Linked DNA regions of Homo sapiens. The protein of the gene in region 3 purifies or fractionates together with the protein of the main gene of each other region. This does not show direct contact. Each region holds a gene or a part of one and is shown on either strand. Other genes may lie near its edges.

Region 1 (7,111 bases), on a different chromosome or scaffold from region 3:
TCAAGAACAAAAGACAAAAAACAAAAAGAATAAGGGACTATACAAACACTGACAACTTGGACAAAATGGATAAATTTATCAGAAACAAACCACAAGTCACCCATATGAAATAGATAATTGGAACAGTCCTATAAAAACTTTTAGGTTAACTAAATTCATAACTGTAAATCTCCTAATAAAGAAATCTCCAGGCCCAGACCGTTTCACTGGTGAGTTCTACCAAATACTTAAGAAAAGTTAACACCAATTATACACAATATCTTCTAAAAAACAGAAGAGGATGCAATGCTTCCTAATTCATTTTATGAAGTATTACTCTGATGCCAAACCAAAGATAGCACAAAAAGAAAATTAGACTCATATTCCTCATGAATATAGACACAATAACCCATAACAAAACATTAGAAGATAGAATTAAGAGATACACTATATGACAAAGTAGGGCTCATGCAAGACTGTCTCAATACTTGAAAATCAATCATATTAATCATATAAAATCACCATATTAACAGGCTAAGGAAGAAAAATCATATAATCCTATCAATCAACACAGACAAAACATCTGACAAAAAGTTAATATTGAAAGTTAATGATAAAAAAATTTCAGAAAAATAGGAATACAACAGAACTTTCATAACTTGACAAAGATCATCTACCAAAAATTTACAGTTAACATTATACTTAATGATGAAACAACAGATACTTTTCCCTTAAAATGGGAAACAAGGCAAGGATGTCCACTCTCACTACTCTTATTCAACACAGTGCGGAAGTTGCAGCCAGTGAAATATAGCAAGAAAAGGAGATAAAAGGCATACAGATAGAAAAGGGAGAAATAAAACTCTCCGTATCTGCAGATAAATAAAACCTCCATATTTGAAGATGATTGTCCACATTAAAAAAATGACAATCTATCCAAAAATACTCCTAGAACTGAGTCCAGCAATGTCACAGAATACAAGATAAACATAAAATTAACTGTATGTCTAGATTCTAGTAATGAACACCAAAATTATATATAATCACTTTATTCTAAAATTTACATGGAAAGACAAATGAGTTAGAATATCTAAAAACAATTGTGAAAATAAAGGATAAAGTAGGAGGAATGAGTCTGCCCAATTTCAGACTTAAACAGCTACAGCTTAAGACAGTGGGACTGACAGAGGAACATACATATAGATCACATACAGCTCAATCTAACACAGTGGGGAACTTAGAAATAGACTCACACAAATACGCTCAACTGATTTTTAAGAAAGGTGCAAAAGCAATTCAATGAGAAAAGATAGGTGCCAGAACACCCGAACATACTATCCACCCCACAAAAAGGAACCTCAAGTTAAATCTCACACTTGACATAAAAATTCAAAATGCATCACAGACTTAAATGTAATATGTAGGCCAGGTGCTGTGGCTCACGCCTGTAACTCTAGCACTTCAGGAAGCCAAGGCCGAAGGACTGCTTGAGGTCAGAAGTTCGAGACCACCCTAAGCAATACGGAGACACCCCCACCTCTACAAAAAATTTTAAAAATTAGCCAGGCATGGCAGCATGGATGTGTAGTCCCATCTACTTGGGAGGCTGAGGCATAAGGATCACTTGAGCCCAGGACTTTGAGGTTACAGTGAACTGTGACTGTGCCACTGTACTTCAGCCTGGGTGACAGAATGAGACCCTGTCTCTAAATAAAAAATAAATGTAATATGTAAAACAATATTACTTTTATTTATTTTTTAAATAGGAGAGAGTCTTTGAGATCTAGGACTAGGCAAAGAGTTAATAAGACCTGAAACTAAAAGCATGATCCATAAAAAGCGGTAAATTAGACTTAATCAAAATGAAATATTTTGGTTCTATGAAAGACCCTATTAAGAAAATGAAAACTACATACTGGGAGAAAATATGTGTAAACTACATATCTGACAAAGATTGCCAGATTTGTGATCATCAGGGATCATGGAAGGGTGGGGGTGGGGTTAGTATGGCCATAAGATAGCAACATAAGGGATCCTTGGAATCCATGAAAATGTTCTATCTCTCTCTCTCTCTTTTTTTTTTTTTTAAAGAGATAGGGTCTCACTTTGCTGCCCAAGCTAAGTGTAGTGGCACGATCATAGCTCACTGCAACCTTGAACTCCTGGGCTCAAACAATACTCTTGCCGCAGACGCCTGAGCTGACAGGGGCACAACATCATGCCAAGGTAGCTTTTAAATTTCTTGTAGAGACCAGAACTTACCATATTGTCCAGGCTGGTCTAGCCTCAAGGGATCCTGTGGCCTCAGACTCCCAAAGCACTGGGATTAAAGGTTCCCTATCTTAACTGTCAGTATCATGGTTGTGATGTTGTAGCATAGTTTTGACAAAATGTTTCCATCAATGGAAACTTTGTAAAAGGTACAAAGAATCTCATTTCTTAGGATTGCATGTCAATCTACAATTATCTCAAAACTAAAAGTTTAATGAAGACTTTTTTTTTTTTTTTGAGACAGGGTCTCTGTTGCCCAGGCTGTAGTTCAGTGGCACAAAAAAACAGCTCACTGCAACCTTGACCACCCAGGCTCAAGAGATCCTCCCACCTCACCTTCCCAAGTAGCTAAGACCACAGACACATGCCACCAGGCCTAGCTAATTTTTTTTTTTTTTTTGTAGAGATAGGGTCTCTCTATGTTGCCCAGGCTAATCTCAAGATCTTTAGCTCAAGTGATCCTCCCACCTCAGTCTCCCAAAAGTGATGAAAAAAAATTTTTTAATCAATAGTGAGGCTGGTTGAGGTGCCTCACGCCTGTAATCCCAGCACTTTGGGAGGCTGAGGCGGCTAGATTGCTTGAAGCCAGGAGTTCGAGACCAGCCTGGGCAACGTGGCGCAACCCCACCTCTACAAGAAATAAAGTAGCCAGGCGTGGTGGTGCATGTCTATAGTCCCAGCTACTGCAGAGGCTGAGGTAGGAAAATCACTTGAGCCCGGCAGACAGAGGCTGCAGTGAGCCGAGATCACGCCACTGTACTCAAGCCTGGGCAACAGAGTGAGACCTTGTCTCTAAATAAATAAACTGTGAAAAGCACAATCATGACCAATTACCACAGATTTCTTAAGTGTGAAATACCTAAGCCTCAACCACATTAACTAAATATTAAATTAAAATACTAATTTTAACTTTCTACTGTAAATATGTCTTAAAAGAGTCATATTTCCAGAGCTACTGGTATTAATAAAAGTCACATGATTACAACTGCAAGCTAAATATACAATGACGAATTATTACTAAAATTTTGAGGTCTAATTTAGGTATTTATGCTGCCCTGACAAAAAGCCTGAATTTTCTTAATCAAGAGAGTTGTTAAACCAATGAATAACGTGCACCTTCTACTTGCAAACACTATTCTGAAAAGTTTCGTATCTATATTCTTCATCTCTAACACTGAGGCTACATATGAGTCTAGAAGGGAAACAACAGAAGTTCACTCAGCTACTGGGATAAATCCAAGTGAGATGACTCCATATCAATCTAACTCACTGATAAAAAATACCTATTTAAGATAAACCACTTGTTTCTCATCTCTTCCATAAGTTTTCAACTTCCTCAAAAATTACTCTTAGAGCAAAAAGAAACGTTCAGACAGACCTTATTCAAAAAGTTCTCCCAGCTATAGTACACGCAATTTGGTCTCACATTACCAATTTTCTCGTTTAAAATATGTAAAATTTGCTCCCATATATATTTCTTTAAGTTTATATTCTTACAAAGGATTTGTTCATGGCACGTTTCACTTCATCAGAACCATCTGAATAGATCTGCTGAAATAATCTGTTTAAAGCTGCATCTCCCTCCAACTTTTCATTCTTTTCTTCTTCTTTGATCTCACCAACCAATTTATCCCAATTTCTTGTATAAGGAGATGATGATGGATATAGGTTCTTTACATCTATGAAGTAAAAAAAGGCAGAAGTAATTAATCAACATGTTTCAATTATGTCGAGAATATGTAAACTTTGTGACCATGTATATGGAACATCTTAGCAAACAGTTTAGGTTACTGAATTTCAGGTATGCAATAAGTGTCTTTCTGGTATATAGGTCAATAACAAAATTCACATTTCTAAAAACTGAGTCAGTTACCATAATGTAAAATCTGGGGATTTCTTTTGAGCAAAATAACTCAATAAAGTGTAAACTTTTGATATGCTATACAAAATTAGATTAAAAGCAGATTCTTCATGTTGATAACAGAAACTAGATGAAAAGTATACAGAACTTTTATGTTTTCAGAAAAGTTGCAGAGACAGTACGAACAATTCTAAAAATGAAATTTTTTAAAGGATGCCTAAGAAATCTTTTGTAACTAAGATTTTAATAAATGTTAAAAATGTGACTTTTTCTAAAGTACTTAGTATCTTTCAGAGTATAAATAGCCTGAAAATATAAATAATCATCCATGCCACTCCATACTCTCCCATCAAAAAAGTAAGATTATTTTAATAGGCAATAACAGTAAGTAATTTCTAAATGTTTAAAGTACTACACTTGATGATCTAAAGTTCAATGCCCACATCCCATACACCTAGCAAATAATAGTATTTGTAGGGCACACTGGAGTAAACAGAGCTGCTTGCAGCGAGAGAGGCTACTGGCCCAGGGGCTCGGGGTACTGCCAAGATTGCTCCAAAGACCAAAGGCATCAAGATCTTGGCACACAAATAATTAGAAAATAACTAGACAACCTAGTAGCTATAGGAGCAGCTCTGTTGACTATCCAATGAAAATATAATGACAGCCTCAAATGTGAGTCACATATATAATTTAAAACTTCCTAGTAACTACATTACTAAAAAGAATCAGGTGAAATGCAGTTTAATAATACATTTTATTTAACCTGATATATCAAATATAGTATCATATTGACTTGAAACCAACAGAGGCCGGGCATGGGGGCTCACACCTATAATCCCAGCACTTTGGGAGGCCAAGTAGGAGGATTGCTTGAGGCCAGAAGTGTGAGACCAGCCTGGGCAACATAGTGAGAGCCCATCTCTATGAAAAAAAAATAATAATAATTAGCTGGGCGTGGTGGCACATGCCTGCAGTACCAGCTACTCGGAAGGTTGGGGTAGAGGACTGCTTGAGTCCAGGAGGTTGAGGCTACACTGAGCCATGACAGTGCCACTGCATTCCAGCCTGGGTGACACAGCAAGACTCTCTCTTAAAAAAAAAAAAAAACCAACAAAAAAAATGAAGATATTTTATATTCTTTTTTTCATACTAACTCTTCAAACTGTAGCATATATTTCACATAGCACATCATCTCAATGCAGACTAGTCATATTTCAAGTGCTCAACAGGTAACATGTGGCTAGCAGCTACTGTGTTGGACAAAAGAGCTACAGTTTTCAAAAAACCCAATTCAAAATTTCCCCATCAGTATGTATTAGGACACATTAGTACTAATCTAAATGTTCCTCCCAATACTGCTCTCTACATCCCTTTTGTCAAAATAGCTGAGAAACTAACATCCACTGTTTTTCTACGCTTTCTCTTCACTTGTAAACCGACTTTCTCCCTGCCCATTCCTCCTCAAAACAAAACAACACACACAACACCAACACATAGTTTTTTTTCAGGGCCAAATATATTGTTTTGAAAATCCTATCCACCTTCCTTCTACTAGATATCCTTCTATCTTTGTACATTTTCACTAGTAGCCAGGTAAAACAAAAAATGCGTGCCATGGTAAGTTAAGAGCCTGGGAAATATGGATTTAATTAATCCTAATGCTGACTCCCAGGAAGGATGAGAACAGAGGTTTTAATCTCTATTTTGTAGATAAGCAAGCTGGGTCAGATAGGTTAAGTGACTTGCCCTTATCTACAGTCTCCAGCTTGCAATACACAGGAATCTGACAAGTATATTAATTTCTTACAAAAACAGGACAGGAAGAGTATCATCTTGAATATCTAAGGTGTTGAGTTTAGAAAAAACATGGTAACTGTAACACTAAAAAGCCTTGATCTTTAATCTCAGAAAAACTTTTAACACCTGGAGATGGCAGATGAACTACTGAGAGATGAGTAATCTAACCTCCCTGCTCATTCACTATAATATCAAATAACTACTAGATACTCATGTCGGCAAAGACTGTTTCCATTGTTAGAAAATGCAACAACAAGCAGTATGCAACAAGTAGACAACGGGTTAACAGAATAACTGGACCCAACTGAGAAGACCTAGATTTTAGTCCTAGACAATGAGAACTGAGGGATAATCTTGAGCTTAACTTTTCTGAGCCTGCAAAATGGGAGGAATACTAAGGGGCTGCCTGTTATGCAGGGCTGTTAGAATTAAGTAAGATACTACATTTAAAGTGATTATATATTTTTTAAAGCTTTCAGCTACATATAAACCTCAGCCTCAAAATCTATTGGAGTCAGTCCTAAAAGAAACACATACATCTTTCAAATAAAGTGTGAAGCAGATGCTTAAATACCTTAAATACCAACTAGATATACTTCAGTCCTTAAAAAGTATCTGTTGGTGTTAATACCCTGATTTTGAAAATTATACCACAGACTACTTAAGAGGTAATCATTGGACTAGTTAAGACACTATCAATGGGGGAAACTGGGTGAAAGCTATATGAGAATCTCTTATTTTTGAAATTTCTAAACATCCAAAATTATTTCTTAAGAAATAACTATACACACACACACAAACACACACACAAATGATCTGTTGAATAACTCAGTGTTTTCTAAAAGGTGCCACAAGGAAATGTGTTTTCTGTTACAGAAGAAAGCAGTCAAAATCAGAAAAAGCTGAGACACATGTTAGCTTGTTTCAGTCATTAAATCAGACCATTACTTCCAATAAAAAGAAATTTCCCTCCACTCATTAATGAAGCTATTGCTATAAAATATAATCTTAGGTTGTAGTTCTGAGTGTGCTGTGAATTTGTCCACTAGAAAAATTCTTACCTAGTTATTGCACATACTTAAAATTGACCTCAACACAAAGTTCTGTTTCTTACAGGGTTATATATACAATGAAGCCTGGTTTTCTACTCTTCTCCTAGACTTTCCTTTGGCATTTACCACCTATTTGCGTCCATCTCTA
Region 2 (7,699 bases), on a different chromosome or scaffold from region 3:
TTTATGGATAAAATGATCAGATGTCTGCTATTTGTTACAAAATAATACTAGAACATGGGGAGTGAGTGAGGCTAAGTTAAAAAAGATTGTTCATGGATTCATAATTGCTGAAATTGAGTGAAAAGTACATGGATGTTCATCATAGTATGATGTAACATTATGTATGTTTGCCAAAAAAAGAACATGTCAGGGCTGGGGGGGCAGTTAAAAAAAAACGCATGCCACATCACTGAAAAACGTCCTCATATTTTTCAAGGAAAGAAATGTATTATCAAGGAATCACAGAGCAGAAAGACCTTAAAAGCAATCTATTCAAACCACCTCAATTTATAAATAAGGAAATTAAGGCTCAGATAGGTTAACTGACTTGCTCAGGGTCACACAACTTGTCAGTTCCAAACTCAAGATCAGAATTTAAATCTCCAAACTTGTAGTCCAGGGCTGTGCTCTTTTTGCAAACCAAAAAGAAATGACTGCACTTAAATATTTAGTCCAGAATATCCTCAAAATTGACTGTAATAAAAGTAAGCCACATGATGAGGAATGAATAGAGTTGGTTCATACCAAAAATGAGCTGCCAGTCACAGTGATAAGATCTGTTTCTTTCTGAGAACCATGGTTTCCTGCTGCATTGGGGAATCCAAACTGGGTTTCTCCCTCCTGTCCAAAGAAGTCAGAGTCAGGATGTACGTTCCACTCCGCTTTGGTTGGTGTCAGTAGTTCTGAGACACTGTTTTCACAAAGGGTGCTCGAAGGAGTCAGAGCATCTGTGTCCACTGTTAGCTTACTGCTGGGTGTCAAAGCCTGAGGCTCTGGACTGGAGTTTTTCATGGCCAAAGAGTCCAGAGATCCCAATGGCCCCACACTTACACTTGAGACCTCATCCATATTTAAGGAGCTCTGCTGAAAACCAGTGGCCGCCGTTCCAAAAAAGAGAGAGGTATCCAGACTTTGAGGAGGGTCGCTGGTGGCCATCAAGGACGGAGGGTCCACAGCCTGCCCTACGGAATTATTATTATTAGCAGGGAGGTGCCCTGCCAGAGTCGAGCTCACAGAAGCCACATCAATAGTCAAGATTCCAGAGTTCACCAATGCTGTGTCCAGCAATGCAGCAGAAGTACTGTCAGGTACATCAGAGAAGAGAGACACTATCTCTGCATCACTGAGATCATTCTGTCTCTGGCTGGTAAGTTCACTGCTGGGTGTGAGAGAATTTGCTGCTTCTAGCTGAGCTAAGAGATCCTGGCCCACCTTATGCCTTTTAACCATGTGCGTCTTCATGCTGTGCTTGGATGTGAAGAGTTTATTACAAGAGGAGATCGGGCAACGGCTTTTCCAAGTGTCCACATCCTGCAGGTGTTTCTTGGAGTGAATGTAGAGGCTACTGCGAGCAGAGAACCTGGCACAGCAGCCTGCCACAGGACACACGAAAGGCTTTGTGCCCAGGTGGGTTATGCTGTGGCCTTTCAGATGTTCCGCCCTCGTGAAAGATTTCCCACAGCCTTCCACAGGGCACATGAACCTCCGGTCATCGTCGTGCTTTCTTTTGTGCCTTAAGAGTTTGGACATGCTAGTGAAGTTCCAGCCACAGCCATCAAAGTCACAAAGGAAAGGTCTCTCGCCGGTGTGACTCCGCAGGTGAATTTTCAGCCTACAAGCCTTGTCATATTGTTTGCTGCAGCCAGGAAAAGAGCAGGAAAACAGTTCCTGTTCCCTGAAATGGGCGCGGTTATGGGAAAACAGAGCACTCACTGTGATAAATGTCTTCTTGCAGCCAGAAAACGCGCACTGGTAAGGCCTCTCCGGTTCGAAGTGGCTGCGCTGGTGGGCGCTGAGTTTGGCCTGCGTGGGGAAGCTCTCCTCGCACACCTCGCATTTGAATGAGTTCTCCTGCTCATGGCCCTTCATGTGCGCCTTGAGGTTGTACACTGTGGTGAAGCTCTTGCCACAGCCCTCTGCCGGGCAGCCAAAGGGCCGCAGTTTGTCGTGCGACTGCAGGTGCCTCTTGAGCTTGTAAGAGGTGGTGAAGGTCCAGCCGCAGCCACCCAGGGGGCATTTGAAGGGCCTCTGGCCCTGGCTGCTGCTGTGCGTCAGCAGGTGCACCTTCAGCTGGTGCTTCTTGGCGAAGGTTTGCCCGCACTGCGCCTCGGGGCACAAGTACAGCACCACGCCTGGGCCGGAGCCCAGCGGTCCGCGGGGGCCCAGGGCGGCGGCCGGGCCCTCCGCCTCCTCCTCAGGCGCCGGAGCTGGCGCGGGTTCGGCCGGCTCAGCTAGCAGGAGGTCTGGCGGCAGCTCTGGGCAGTCACCCGGGTGCGCGGCATGCGGGAACCCAGCTTGCGGGGCGATCAGACACCCGGGCTGCTGGGCAGGAGCGGCCCCTGGCTCCCAGGCGTGTGGTGGGGGCGTGGCCAGGGTGAGGACGCCGTTCTCAAAGCGCAACAGCAGGTCCTGGTTGTGGATAGTGACTGTGCCCGCGAAGGCCGCGGCGGGGCCGGGGGCGGAGATCGGGGCCGGAGTGGGAACCGCGGACAGGCAGCGGGGGCCTAGCGCAGTGGGCCCCGCGGGATTCGCGCCGCTCTCGCCCCCCTGGAGCCCCGGGCCCTCCTCGGCCTCCTCCCTCAACACAGGCCCTGCGGCCTGACCGGAGCCCGCGGTCTCCACGTCGCCACCCACCGGGTCAAGCAGCACCAGGAAGAAGTCGTCGCCGCCGCCGCCGCCGCCGCCGCTAGGTTGATCGGTCCTCGGCGCCAACAGGCTTGGGCCAGGGCCCCGTGATGCCGTGCTGGCCTCCTCGCGCCGCCGCCCGGGCCCGCCATCTTGGGGGCCCCGGAGCAGCAGGAGGCGGCGCGTGGGGACCTGGCCAGCCGGCGAGTCAGGGCCTCGGTGGACTCGGCCGCCACCCGCGGGGATACCGCCGCCGCCGCCGCCCTGTAGTGTCCCGCGAGCCGGGAGCAGCTTCGGGATTTCCATCTCTGCGTCCGAGAGGCTCGGCTGGAACCAGAGCCGAGGAGGAGGCGCGATCCCGCCCCCTGCCGCGGGCCTGAACACGTTCCTGAAAGGGGAAAAAAAAATGTGCAATGCGCAGAAACTGGCCCTATCAGATATTAAAACGTATTTAACGCCACAGTGATTTAAATATTCTGGTACTGGGTCTCTGGAACAGAATAGAAAGCCCAGAGGTAGAGCCTGGTATGCATAAATACGTTCTACAGTTAATATAAGTAAGTAATTAAGGGGGTCTTCTGAGGTAATGGGGAAATGACGACAGCTTGTTCAGTAATGCTGTGGAACACCTAGGTATCTATCCGCTGGAAGCAATTTTAATCCATGACTCATTGTATATACCCAAATAAACACACCCCAGCCCCTCCCAGTGTTAGATATGTTGCTTCGTACTTTCTGTGTGTTAAAATTTGCTGGCTGGCTGGCTGGCTGGACTGATGGATGAAAGACAATTCCTGAGAGAAAAAACTGTCTCTGTGTCAGCATTAAACCACCATAGCGCTGGCAGTTCTGCTGAAAATGTCCTTCCCCTTCCCACCTCCCCGCGGGACAACTTCCATATTCACAATTATCTTGAGCAAAGTCTTCGGTACAATTTGCCGCATAGTTCAAATTTTGTCTTGCTGATACAGACATTAGAATGAGTGAGAGATGCGGCCAAAACAGGTTAGCACTCTTCAGCCTAGAAATTCAAAGTCTGGAGGATGAAACAATTTACACTGAAATCTGGAAAAAACCCAACCTTCTCCTGGCTTCTCCCTATACAGTGCACAACCTAAACCAACTTTTGCCCTTCCACCATCGGTTGTACTGTGATAAATTTCATGTCTGCTCTCACAGCACAATGAGGGCATTCATTCCTCAGTTTACTCTGCCTTCTCCAGCACGTGGAGGTCTCTGGGCAGGAGTTTCAGTTAAATGTGTTTAGGTTAAATCCTGAGTCACTGCAATGGATTCTGCCAAGTAAAAGGCACAGACGATCTTGTCCAATCAACCTGGTGTACCTGTTCACATTTAAGTGTGGTGGCCCAGGCTTGCTGGGCCTGTGGTGCCTAATGATCTTATTAATGATGATGACAATCCTTCATTTTGTCCGTTACGACTGAGTTGGGAATTGACACAAATATAGGGTGAAATATCTGAGATAAGAAAGCTTAGAGTAATGACTAGATTGGTGGTGGTGGGGGAGCGGGGTGTAACCTGTTGTTTAAATACTCCCAGCTCTCTCGCCCTCTTTTAATGACAGTGGACACTTGGTCTCTTGAAAATCAAGCTATTCATCCATAACTATTTGAACCTCATCAAAATGTCTACTCCACATACTTTTCTTTCTATTACTTTTTCTGGTGGAAGCATTTTTCAAATCTGAGGTATAGAAGAGTGCATAAAACATATTTGTATCGTTTAGATTATTTTACAAAAGCAGACACCTGTGTAACCAGGACCAAGGTCAAGCAATAGACCACTGCCAGCCTTCCAGAATACAGCCGCTGTACTCCTCCCAATCACAACCCACACTCTCCTATATGAATATAGTCATTGCCCTGACTTTGTAATAATCATTTCACTGCTTTCCTTTATAGCTTTATCACTTTTGTACGCATCCGTAAACAATAGAGTTGATACGAAGTTGTATAAATGGAATCATACGGCAAGTTTCCTTTTATAACTTGTTTCTTTCACTCTGTATTATACTTGAGACTCATCCATGTTGTTCATAATAGTTATAAGTAAGTAGATCCTTTGTCTCCATCGACTGTCGTTCCAGCATATGCTTATAGCAAAGTGATTATGGTATGATTATACCACTCCATTCTACAGCAGATGAACATTAGGATTGCTTCTATTTTTCAGCGATTATTATGAACATTCTTGCACATTTCTCATGGGACACATGTGTAAAAATCTCTCTAGGGTATATATCCAAGAATAGAATCACAGGGCCATAGGGTATGGATATCCTGAGCTTTACTAGATGATGCCAAATTGTTCTCTGTAGTGATTGGGCAAGCTGTCAATCCCACCAGCAGCACAGAGAGCCCCTACTGCTCCACATCTTCACCCACACCAAGTATTGCCAGAATTTAAATTTTGCCAGTCTACTGGTGGGCAATACCCAAATTACTAGTAAGCTTTAGCACATTTTCGTGTTTATGAGCCTTTTGGAGTGTCTACTCCGAAGAAGGCCTATTCAAATTTACCTCTTTTAACCCATGTTTCTATTCTATTGTTCATCTAGTACTTACTGACTTAATGAGCCTGTTAAATATTTTAAATACTAGTCCATACCTGTGGCCAAAATATTCCCTTGTTCTGTTTGTATTTCCCATTGCTTTGTGCTGTGTTTTGTGAACAGAAGATCTTAATTATAATATAGTCAAATTCATCATTCTTTTCCTGATGGTTAGTGTGTTTTTGTTTTAAGAAATCTGTTTTAAGAAATCTTTTCTGTTTTAAGAAACCCTGGGCCATGAAAGCGTTTTCTATATTTTCTTCCAAAATACGTATGCTATTGCCCTTCACAGTCAGGTCTTAATCCACCTGCAATTGATGTTTGTATATTGTGTTGAGTGGGGTTCCATTTATTTATTTATTTATTTATTTGTTTGAATATCCAGTTTTCTCAGTGAACCACTTATTGAAAAGTCTGCCTTTTGCCAACTGATTTACAGTGCCATAAATCAAGTATCTACCCATATGTGGGCTAGTTCCTATACTCGCTATTAAGTGCTCGGCCCTATTTGTTTGAAATATCACACTGTCTTAATTACTACAGATCCATAGTCAATTCTGATATTTGGATAAGGCAGTAAATTCTACATCTTTCTTCAAAAGTGTCTTGGCTACTTTTGGCCCATTTCAATTCCATTTAAATTATAAACTCATCATAAAAACTTCAACCAACAGCTAGTTTGGGGTTCTAATTCATATTGTGCTGATATTTTAGATTTGACTTCTCAATATTGAAAGTTTGGTTCATGGCTTTGGTCTGTCTCTCCTTTTAATAAGGTCTCCTTTAATGTGCCCAAGTAATACTTTATATTTTTCCCAAAAGGCAACTTTTTTGTCCTAGGCACTTCATATTGTGCAAATCCTGTTTGGAATTTTTACTGTCTAAATTTGTTTCTGGTAAATAAATAGGATGCAATTGACTTTTGTTCATTAAGATTTTATCCTACAAGCGTATAAACTCTTCTATTGATTCTAATAATTTGTCTGTAATACTTTGTGGAATTTTATGTACACTGTCATATCATCTGTAAATAGTGCCAGTCTTTCTTCTTCCTTTCCAAATATCTTATTTCTTTTTCTTGCTCTACTGCTCTGTCTGGGACCCCATCACCACCCCCAGTAAACTATTGAATAGAAGTGGTGATAGTGGACATCCTTACTTGATGAAGCTCTTAAAGAGAAAGCTTTCAGTGATTCTCCATTAAGAATGATGCTTGCTGTAGATGTTGTGTTCTGTAGCAATATAGATTCAATCCAGAGATAGAAAGCACACAGTGATCTAGAAAGAGAAGGTTTAATATAAAGAATCATTAAACTATGATAAAATATCTTATATAGAATACAAGACAACTCTATATGGGGTTTTCTGGGACTGGGGGAGAGTATCCAAGGAAAGACAAACTTAGAATGAAAGCTTCTCCCCAAGGCTGGATTTCATACCTAATTGGAGAAGAACCCACTGGATGGCAGAGAAGTTCCACTGGTTTGCCAGTACCTGAGCTGGTCTGCAGAGCTAGAACTGGTCTACGATCACAGAGGAAGCAAGAAGCCCCCCTTTGAAGCACGGTAGTGTGGACAAGCAATAGCTGGTGGCTAGTAAGTGGGTGTGAAGTAGGGGTTGGGGGGCCTGGCTCAGTTGGAGGCCTGGAGTAAACAATGCTCCATGCACAGGATTAGGGTGGGGTCTCAGTGTTGAGATGGCTGCAGTATTGACAGGACTACATGAACCTGGTCGTGTGTGTGTGTGTGTGTGTGTGTGTGTGTGTGTGTGTGTGGCTGTGGAGCAAGTGAGCAGAGAGAAGCAGTAGGCAGATGACTTGGAGAACAGCATGTCCCTATCAAGAAGGCCACAAGAAGCTGATCATTAGGGCACAGCAGGACTGCAGGTTTGCTGAGAGACAGTTGTTCTGGGCCCAGGCCTGAGACAAAGCTTCTTGAATGTCCTCACGTCCACAACTCTGAGAACCAGAAATCATAGAAGTACCACTTCCTCTTTCAGTGTCTGTCCCTACAGAGCCCCCTATTAAGTAAGTGTAACATTATGCTCTTCGATGTTACTTTAAAGGAGAGATGCTTAAAGAATCCCTCTATTATCAAAGAATATATATTGAAGGGTGAATTTGGAGCTGAGAGGTAATAAATTGATAACTGGCTTCATATCCTGTATCAGGTTAGAGGAGTCCACACTCTCTGTAGTCAGTATCAATAGTAGGCACCCTACCTGCCGGGTTATAGTTGTTGATTGCACAAGGGAGATTATCTACCACCCTGTTTTTGCTCTGGTAAGCCTAGACTTCACCACTGGGTAATATATCCATGTAACAACAAGTACATGGTACTTATCCATGTACTTGTACCCCCTAAAGATATACAAATGGTTAAAGTAACGGGCCTGGCTATTTCAGGGGTTTTAGTTGACTATTTAGGATTCTTGGTGGGCTCAGTGTTCCCAGGCCTGAACTGA
Region 3 (7,111 bases):
ACAGCTTCTCCCATTCTGTAGCTTGGTTTTTCACTCTCTCTCTCTCTTTTTTTTTTGAGACAGAGTCTCACTCTCTCACCCAGGCTGGAGTGCAGTGGTGCGATCTAGGCTCACTGCATGCTCTGCCTCCCAGGTTCACGCCATTCTCCTGCCTCAGCCTCCCGAGTAGCTGGGACTACAGGTGCCCGCCACCACGACGGGCTAATTTTTTGTATTTTTAAGTAGAGACGGGGTTTCACCACGTTAGCCAGGATGGTCTCGATCTGCTGACCTCATGATCCGCCCGCCTCGGCCTCCCAAAGTGCTGGGATTACAGGCGTGGGCCACTGCGCCCGGCCGGTTTTTCACTCTCTCAATCATGCCTTTTGATGGACAAAAAAAAAAAAATTTTAATTTTAATTTGGTACAATTTATCAATATTTTCTTTATGGTAAATGCTTTTTGGTGTCCTGTTTAAGATGTCTTTGTGTACTCAAGGTCAACAAGACATTCTTCTAAGTTATTTTTTTAAATTTCATTTCAAAATTGTTCTCATCTGAATCTATGACCCATCTAGAATAAATTTTTGTGTGAGGTATGTTGACTTCTTGAGTAAAATACAAGGCAGGGTCACCCTTAAAAACTGATTAGAGAAGAAAAGTCTCTGTTTTTCTTTTAGGACCTTTATACAAACTCAGCTTTTAGCACCTCTCTACAGGTCTTCTCTCTAGTGAATACACCAGTAGCCTTCTTTTCGTTTTTGACTTTTATCTTGTTAACTATCGCCATCAATCAAAATACTGTTGGTTTTAAGGGGTTGTTTCATCCCACTGGCTAAATGTAATAAAGTACACTTATACCACACTTGACTGACAAAATGTCTAGAAATGTAGTGTTTACTCTTCATTATATTTCAACAGTATTAACTATAATGTCTGTTTGTTAACAATGGTACTTGATGACTTTCCATTTTATTTTAGAGAGCCAAAGTTAAGTTTTTGGTTTCCAACTATTAATCATCCATTTTGCTAAACCACTATTTTTTTTCTGCAATGAGATGTTTAACACAAAGCACATTCTGTTACGTATTATTTATCTATAGTTAAGTATACACAGAACAACTTTTTTCTTTTAAATATCATCATCTGATGGGTAAATCAATATCCAAGTAATATGTATAAAAGTATTTTTTATATTATAAAGTATTATGTGATAGAGATTAACATTATTAATGCCTAAATTTTTTTTGGAAGCCTCGGCTGTACAAGTTGTAAAACATCACCAAAGAACGCTAGAAATCCCTGTTAACATTTCTAAGAAAGATTCCATACATAAGAGGAGGTATTATTAGCTACATAAAAGTCAAAACAAGCCAGAAAACATGTCTTATCACTCTACTGTCTATTTTAAGAAAGTTTAATGTGCACCAAAAGAAAATGAATACTAGCTATGCTCATGGTTACTTACTGTCCATCAAATACAACAAAGAAAGCAGTTACTGACGAGCATTTTCTTTTTAAAGACTTGCCAGGGAAGTTAAATAAAAGCTTAATGATTATTTTAAGTTGATTTTTAAAAAATATTTAGTAATTAAAGAAAATGAATACCTGATCTCCAACTGTCTTCAACAACATGTTGGATAAGACCTCCAAGGAAAGGAACTCGAACCATTTCTAAGTGTTCCAAGTTTCGGGCAGAGGCTAAGCCTGTTACTAAAGGGACATATTTCAAGGAATTTGTGGGTCCTGGAAAAAAAAAAAAATCTTTGATAGAACAATGTAAAGTGCCTTAAAATGAATTTCAAATCAGTGAAAGACATGTATAACTTATAAACTCTAAGTCTTAAAATGACAGCCAAATTGGCTCTCTGAAATCAGGTTCTTGTTACAAATGAAAGTGTTAGCCTATTAACCATACACTTACTCAGCATAAAGGTTTTTCAGTAACACTGTAGAGATATGTAGTATTCCGTAAATTCTCTAAAGGCTCAATAGTTTTGAACTCAAACTAACTAATGGGAAAAAGTCAAGATAAAAATTTGATCCTTCACTCAAGTAAACAGCTCAATCATTTAATCATCTCTATGACCAGTGTTGCATTAGCTACTATAGAAGATCACAAAAGATATGGTCCTGTCCATCAAAAAACCTGCAGTTGACATGGAGCTAGAACTAACATAAGTAATTATAGAAGGATAAGAAGGCAGACTGCATCAAGTGTAAAAATAAGATCTGCCATACTCCATGAAAAAGAAAAAGAAAGAGGAGAAAAGTAAGTTGGAAAAGGCAGAACCTGAAGAACGCATACAAAAACAGAGGAAGAAAGTGCACATCTCAGGATAACGAAACAATAATACAGCATAAGAGAAGACATTGAGATGGAAAGCTGTATGGCTGACCAGGGAACAATGAATAGTCAAATGTGATGATAAAAGAAGATATATCTTGGAAAGGTGTCAGAATAAGGTTATCAAGAGGGGTCCTGGTTATCATGACCTTAAGCAGAGTAGTTCCCACTTAATGCTCTAGTGCAGCGGTGTCCAATATTTTGACATCACTGGGCCACACTGGAAGAGGAAAAATTGCCTTGGGCCACATTGGAAGAGGAAAAATTGTCTTGATATTAAAGATAGCTGATGAGCAGGAAAGAAAAAGAAGAAGAAGAAGAAAAAGCCTATGCATAAATCTCATAATGTTTTAAGAAAGTTTAAGAATTTGTATTGGGCATCATGTGGGCTGTGGCCAGTGGACCGTGGGTTGAACAAGCTTGCTCTAGGGCAACAGGGACACTAAAGATTTCTGTTTAGAAGGATAATACCATAAAAGCTATGTTTAAGGGAGATTAAGGAAGCCAACTATTTACATGCAGAATGATTCGGAGACCAGAAACAAAGTAAGAAGACTGAAATTTAATAAAACAATCCTAGGAAAAGTAAAAAGTACCCGTAAAAAATAGAGATATTCTGAGTTTTGTTTTTTTTTTTTTGCTGAGGTCAAACACAAATCATCTTTCTAATGTCTTTAAAACAAAAAGTACATTTATCTTCACAAGATGAATATGTTATAAGACATAAATAGTAATAGCATAATATAATTGTATTTACAAATGTAGCTAGAGTTTGCTTCAGGATATTTTTAGAATAACTTATGTTTAATTCCACCATAATTGTGTACCATTACCTGCACAGTTCCTCATGACGAAAGTTCTTAAGCTGATACAAAGGAAGTCTTTAAATGGCTGTGGTTTAGTGAGTCTTACCCACTTCATATAAAGGTGCCTTAGCATTGGGATACAAGGAATTTCAGGAACATTCACCCCTAAAACACAAATATAAAAAAGAACAAACAAGAAAAAAATCACAAAAATATACTATATTTTGCTTATAAGTTCAAGAGTCTATTTTTCATATTAACAGCTTAACCTTCAAGGATTTTTATCCGAACAAATTATACAAAATCTATCAAGTTTGCCTTATTTAAAACAGGCTTACAAAGAACAGTTTACGTAAACCATAAACTGACTTAACTTTTTTAGGAAAGGCCAATGGGAAGATAGAGTTTAAAAAGTATTTCTATGTCTTAGACATGTAAGTCTTTCTCATAATCTTACAACTCTTCTAGGATACGTTTTCCCAGAAGAGGTAAAGTGAAAATGGATTACTGAAAGCAAAACTATAACGATGGAGATGGAACACACAAATTTACTATTTGACTACCAACATCCACTGCCCCCTAGTAGGAGAACTATATTTCTCAGAGCAAAGTCAGCTAGATGGGTTTAAATATGCAAATAGATATCTGGAAGATAGCCAAACACAGAACTTTAAAAGCTGTTTTCTATAAATATATGAATCTTAAGAATTTGTAAATGTGTGGGAGAAGCCAGCCAGCATGGCTCTGAGAAAAGCAGAAACCTGCCAGTCATTTATTTTAGAATTTCAAATTGGTAAAGGTAATTTGATGCATGGGATCCAGGAGTGGCTTAATACTAGGAATCATATCCACAGAGGACCATGACCAGAAGAAGGGAGGTGTAGCGTGAGGTGAAAAAATACAGGAAATATGGATGAAAGAAGATAAAAGCCAAGGAAGGGACACAAATTTATTAAAGAAATCCAAGGATCCAGGATGATGGCATTTAACAAACAGTAGTTGGCAAAACTGTTTAATGCAATTTTTAAATTTGAGACAATAGGAGCTCTGCTAGCAAGAATAACTAGAGAATGTAAAATTGCAGTACTTGAATGGTCAGTTGTTTATAAAGGCTAAATTCTACCAAATGTTCTTATTGTAACCTACAAGGATTACCCCTTAACTTGTTCCTCTCAAAATAGCAGAGTTAAATTTAGTTTGAACTATGCACACACATTGTATAGCAACAAATGGGAAGTAAAATTAAGGATGAGACAAAAGGACAAAAAGCAGAAGTGAGGTACAGATTGAGATGTAAGATGCAGAAGTCACAAAGGTTAAATTTAGCATATATTGTAATACTATGAAGATGGTAGTACTGATTGTACTGATTAGGAAACCCAAGGAAGAAGGGTGAGACAGATGCAGAGAAGACAGTATACCCCAGGCCCAAACCACTTTCTGTCTCAAACAAACTCTATAAACAAAGGACATAACTGCCCATTCTCCTGGTAATGTTTATTTTTATTAATTTACCACACCTCTGCATCACCATAATACAGTGTTAAACTGTTAAATGATTCCCATAAATTAATGCATTTTAATAAAACTTACCCTGTACTTATATTTGCAATGAACTGTGACAGGCATTGTAGAAAATATAAAGATATGGAAATAAGTCTTTGACCTTAAGGAGCTTATATTATAAATTCCAGATATTACAGAATCCTTTTACATCTAAAAATCCAATTTCAAACTAGATATCACTCCCTGATCTTATAAATGAAGGGTTGCTAGAAATCTTTACTCTTCTCCCATAATTGTGTATCTAAGTCTTATTTAAGACCTACTCCTTATCATTCCTGATGCTCTCCCTGTACCACCTGAGTTTCAGAAATTTCCACTTCTTTAGACCATCCCCAATACCTAGAATAATGCTTAAAACACATATACTCTCTCTCTCTCTGTGTATGTGTGTGTATATATACAGAATAAAGTAGTAAACAAATATTAAAGGCCAGCTATATTAACAGGGACCCCCGAATTCCTTTCAGTGGCCTAAGCCAAAGGTGACAAATTTGAGAAAATATTTACACTTTTTACTTAAGTTGAAGTTACTGGTATATAATTTCAAAGAATATTCAGATGGAGAATGTACACTTGTGAAGCAGTATTTCCCTCACACCAGTGGATCTTTAATGGGAAATCGGAATTTTTATACAGATCTTGCAAACATTTATTTTGCAATCATCAATCAACAAAGCCATCTCTAAAATTCTCATTATTCTTTTTCAGTGAATATTCACATTTTATGGCATTTCAAGGAGTTACAAGTGACCCAAGAAACATGTACTCACCAACTAAATGTAAAGTTTGAATTTTGGCTCCTATAGGAATTTTCAGTTTATTTTCAGGAGGAATTGGAAAAGCTCCATTACGATTACGAAATTTCCCCAAAATATGAACATGGGGCATATATGTCCAAATGGATTCTACCAACTCCAAATGAGAAGTTTCCACACCCTAGAAAATAATGCCAAAGCAAGCATAAGAAAAGACTTTAGTTTAGCATCCAAAGCTTTATGTACCACAAGATGCTAAGTACACAATGGAACTTAAAAGTTTGTGACAGATGAGATTTGCATGTGAGTGAACACGTCTATCATTCTTTGGTCTATTATTTCATAAACAGTTGATGCCAAAATGTTCAACCAGGTGCACTCACCACTAAGTTTGGGCATGCCTGCAAAGCTTCTAGGACTCCTGGAATGCTAAAAGCCTCATGGCCCCTTACTCTTCGCCTCTCAAGGTATCGAGGGTGAAGGCCATATAGCTGTTCAACATCTGGCATCTTCTTTAATAGTGTTAGAAAACTGGCATCTGTAAAGCCTGAGAAGTTCAGAAGTATTTAGAGCCAGGTTCATCTTTCTGTTCATTAACATTTACTAGGCACTCGTGATTTTTACCAAAAGTTAAAAAAGACTTCCTCTTCAAATTTCCGTAAAGCTAACACTAAAGCTGAATAAACATAACAGAAAATATACTCCTTTAGTAACAGAGGAAATGAGTCAGAAACTCCACTTAATCTAAGTTAATACTTTATGGAGGAGGCTTTTATTATTGACTTTTTGGTTTTTGTTGCTTTTAAGGCATAGAAATCTTCAACAAAGAACACACTTTTAACCCAGATAACTTGGACCTATTTGGTGGATGGAGTGGGACCACCCACCTGATCACCACCACCCTCCTCCTCCCCCATGGGTACTCTCGTCTGTAAAACCTTCAGGACTCTATAGAACACATAACTAAAAATATAAATAAGATATGATCCTCATCGTTAGGAAGCTCACAGTTCTGACCTAATTCCTATCTCAAATTATTCTATCCATTTTCTAATAATTACTCTGATACTCTGTCATATGTTTAACTATTACTCCCCCGCCATTTTAGACAATTAATTCTTTTGAAAAAGACAGATGCAAGTTAGCTAAGAGAACCAGAGTGATCCAATCTCAGGGTATGCTGTTGATAGGAAGCTATCTATCCAGGAGACCATAGTAGGAATCAACAAGATGGGAACAGAGAGAGGCAGGTTACTTCCACAGCAGGAGCTGTTGGTTAAGTAAGTGGGGAGACAAGTCTCATATAGATCCTATTTTAATCTGTTACAAGGGCTTTTTTATTTTTAATGAAAGTGGTCAGAAAGCCAACTGTCTGCTTATTAATGACAAAGAAAAACATTAACTGTCAAGAACAAAAAGTAGGCCCCAAATATTTAAGTCTTACATACTTTTTTGAAAGTTGTTTTATTTTTAAGTTATCTCATTTAACATGTAAAGTCCAGACATGCTAACTTTAGTGAAGAGTAAGGAGAGACCAGAGATTACTTGGTCTCTAATTATAATAACAGTTCTTATTACTTTCTTGTATAGTAACTTTTAATGACTGAACGATTCAATGTGTTAATCATTTTTTTTCATTTATTCTCACAACCAAATCAG

What was found.
Region 1: the proteins of FBXO38 (region 3) and SUGT1 purify together in Homo sapiens (affinity purification with mass spectrometry; 2 studies listed by BioGRID and IntAct, with this or other methods). This does not show direct contact.
Region 2: the proteins of FBXO38 (region 3) and ZXDB purify together in Homo sapiens (affinity purification with mass spectrometry; 2 studies listed by BioGRID and IntAct, with this or other methods). This does not show direct contact.

Annotation. Positions count from the first base shown.
Region 1 is NC_000013.11:52,676,792-52,683,902, reverse strand, and holds part of SUGT1 (protein SGT1 homolog), read right to left. Parts: intron 3,930-7,111; coding exon 3,748-3,929; intron 1-3,747. UniProt on the Homo sapiens protein: May play a role in ubiquitination and subsequent proteasomal degradation of target proteins.
Region 2 is NC_000023.11:57,587,320-57,595,018, reverse strand, and holds the start of ZXDB (zinc finger X-linked protein ZXDB), read right to left. Parts: upstream 3,009-7,699; 5' UTR 2,971-3,008; coding exon 559-2,970; 3' UTR 1-558. UniProt on the Homo sapiens protein: Cooperates with CIITA to promote transcription of MHC class I and MHC class II genes.
Region 3 is NC_000005.10:148,400,870-148,407,980, reverse strand, and holds part of FBXO38 (F-box only protein 38), read right to left. Parts: intron 6,000-7,111; coding exon 5,836-5,999; intron 5,634-5,835; coding exon 5,468-5,633; intron 3,297-5,467; coding exon 3,159-3,296; intron 1,725-3,158; coding exon 1,587-1,724; intron 1-1,586. UniProt on the Homo sapiens protein: Substrate recognition component of a SCF (SKP1-CUL1-F-box protein) E3 ubiquitin-protein ligase complex which mediates the ubiquitination and subsequent proteasomal degradation of PDCD1/PD-1, thereby regulating T-cells-mediated immunity.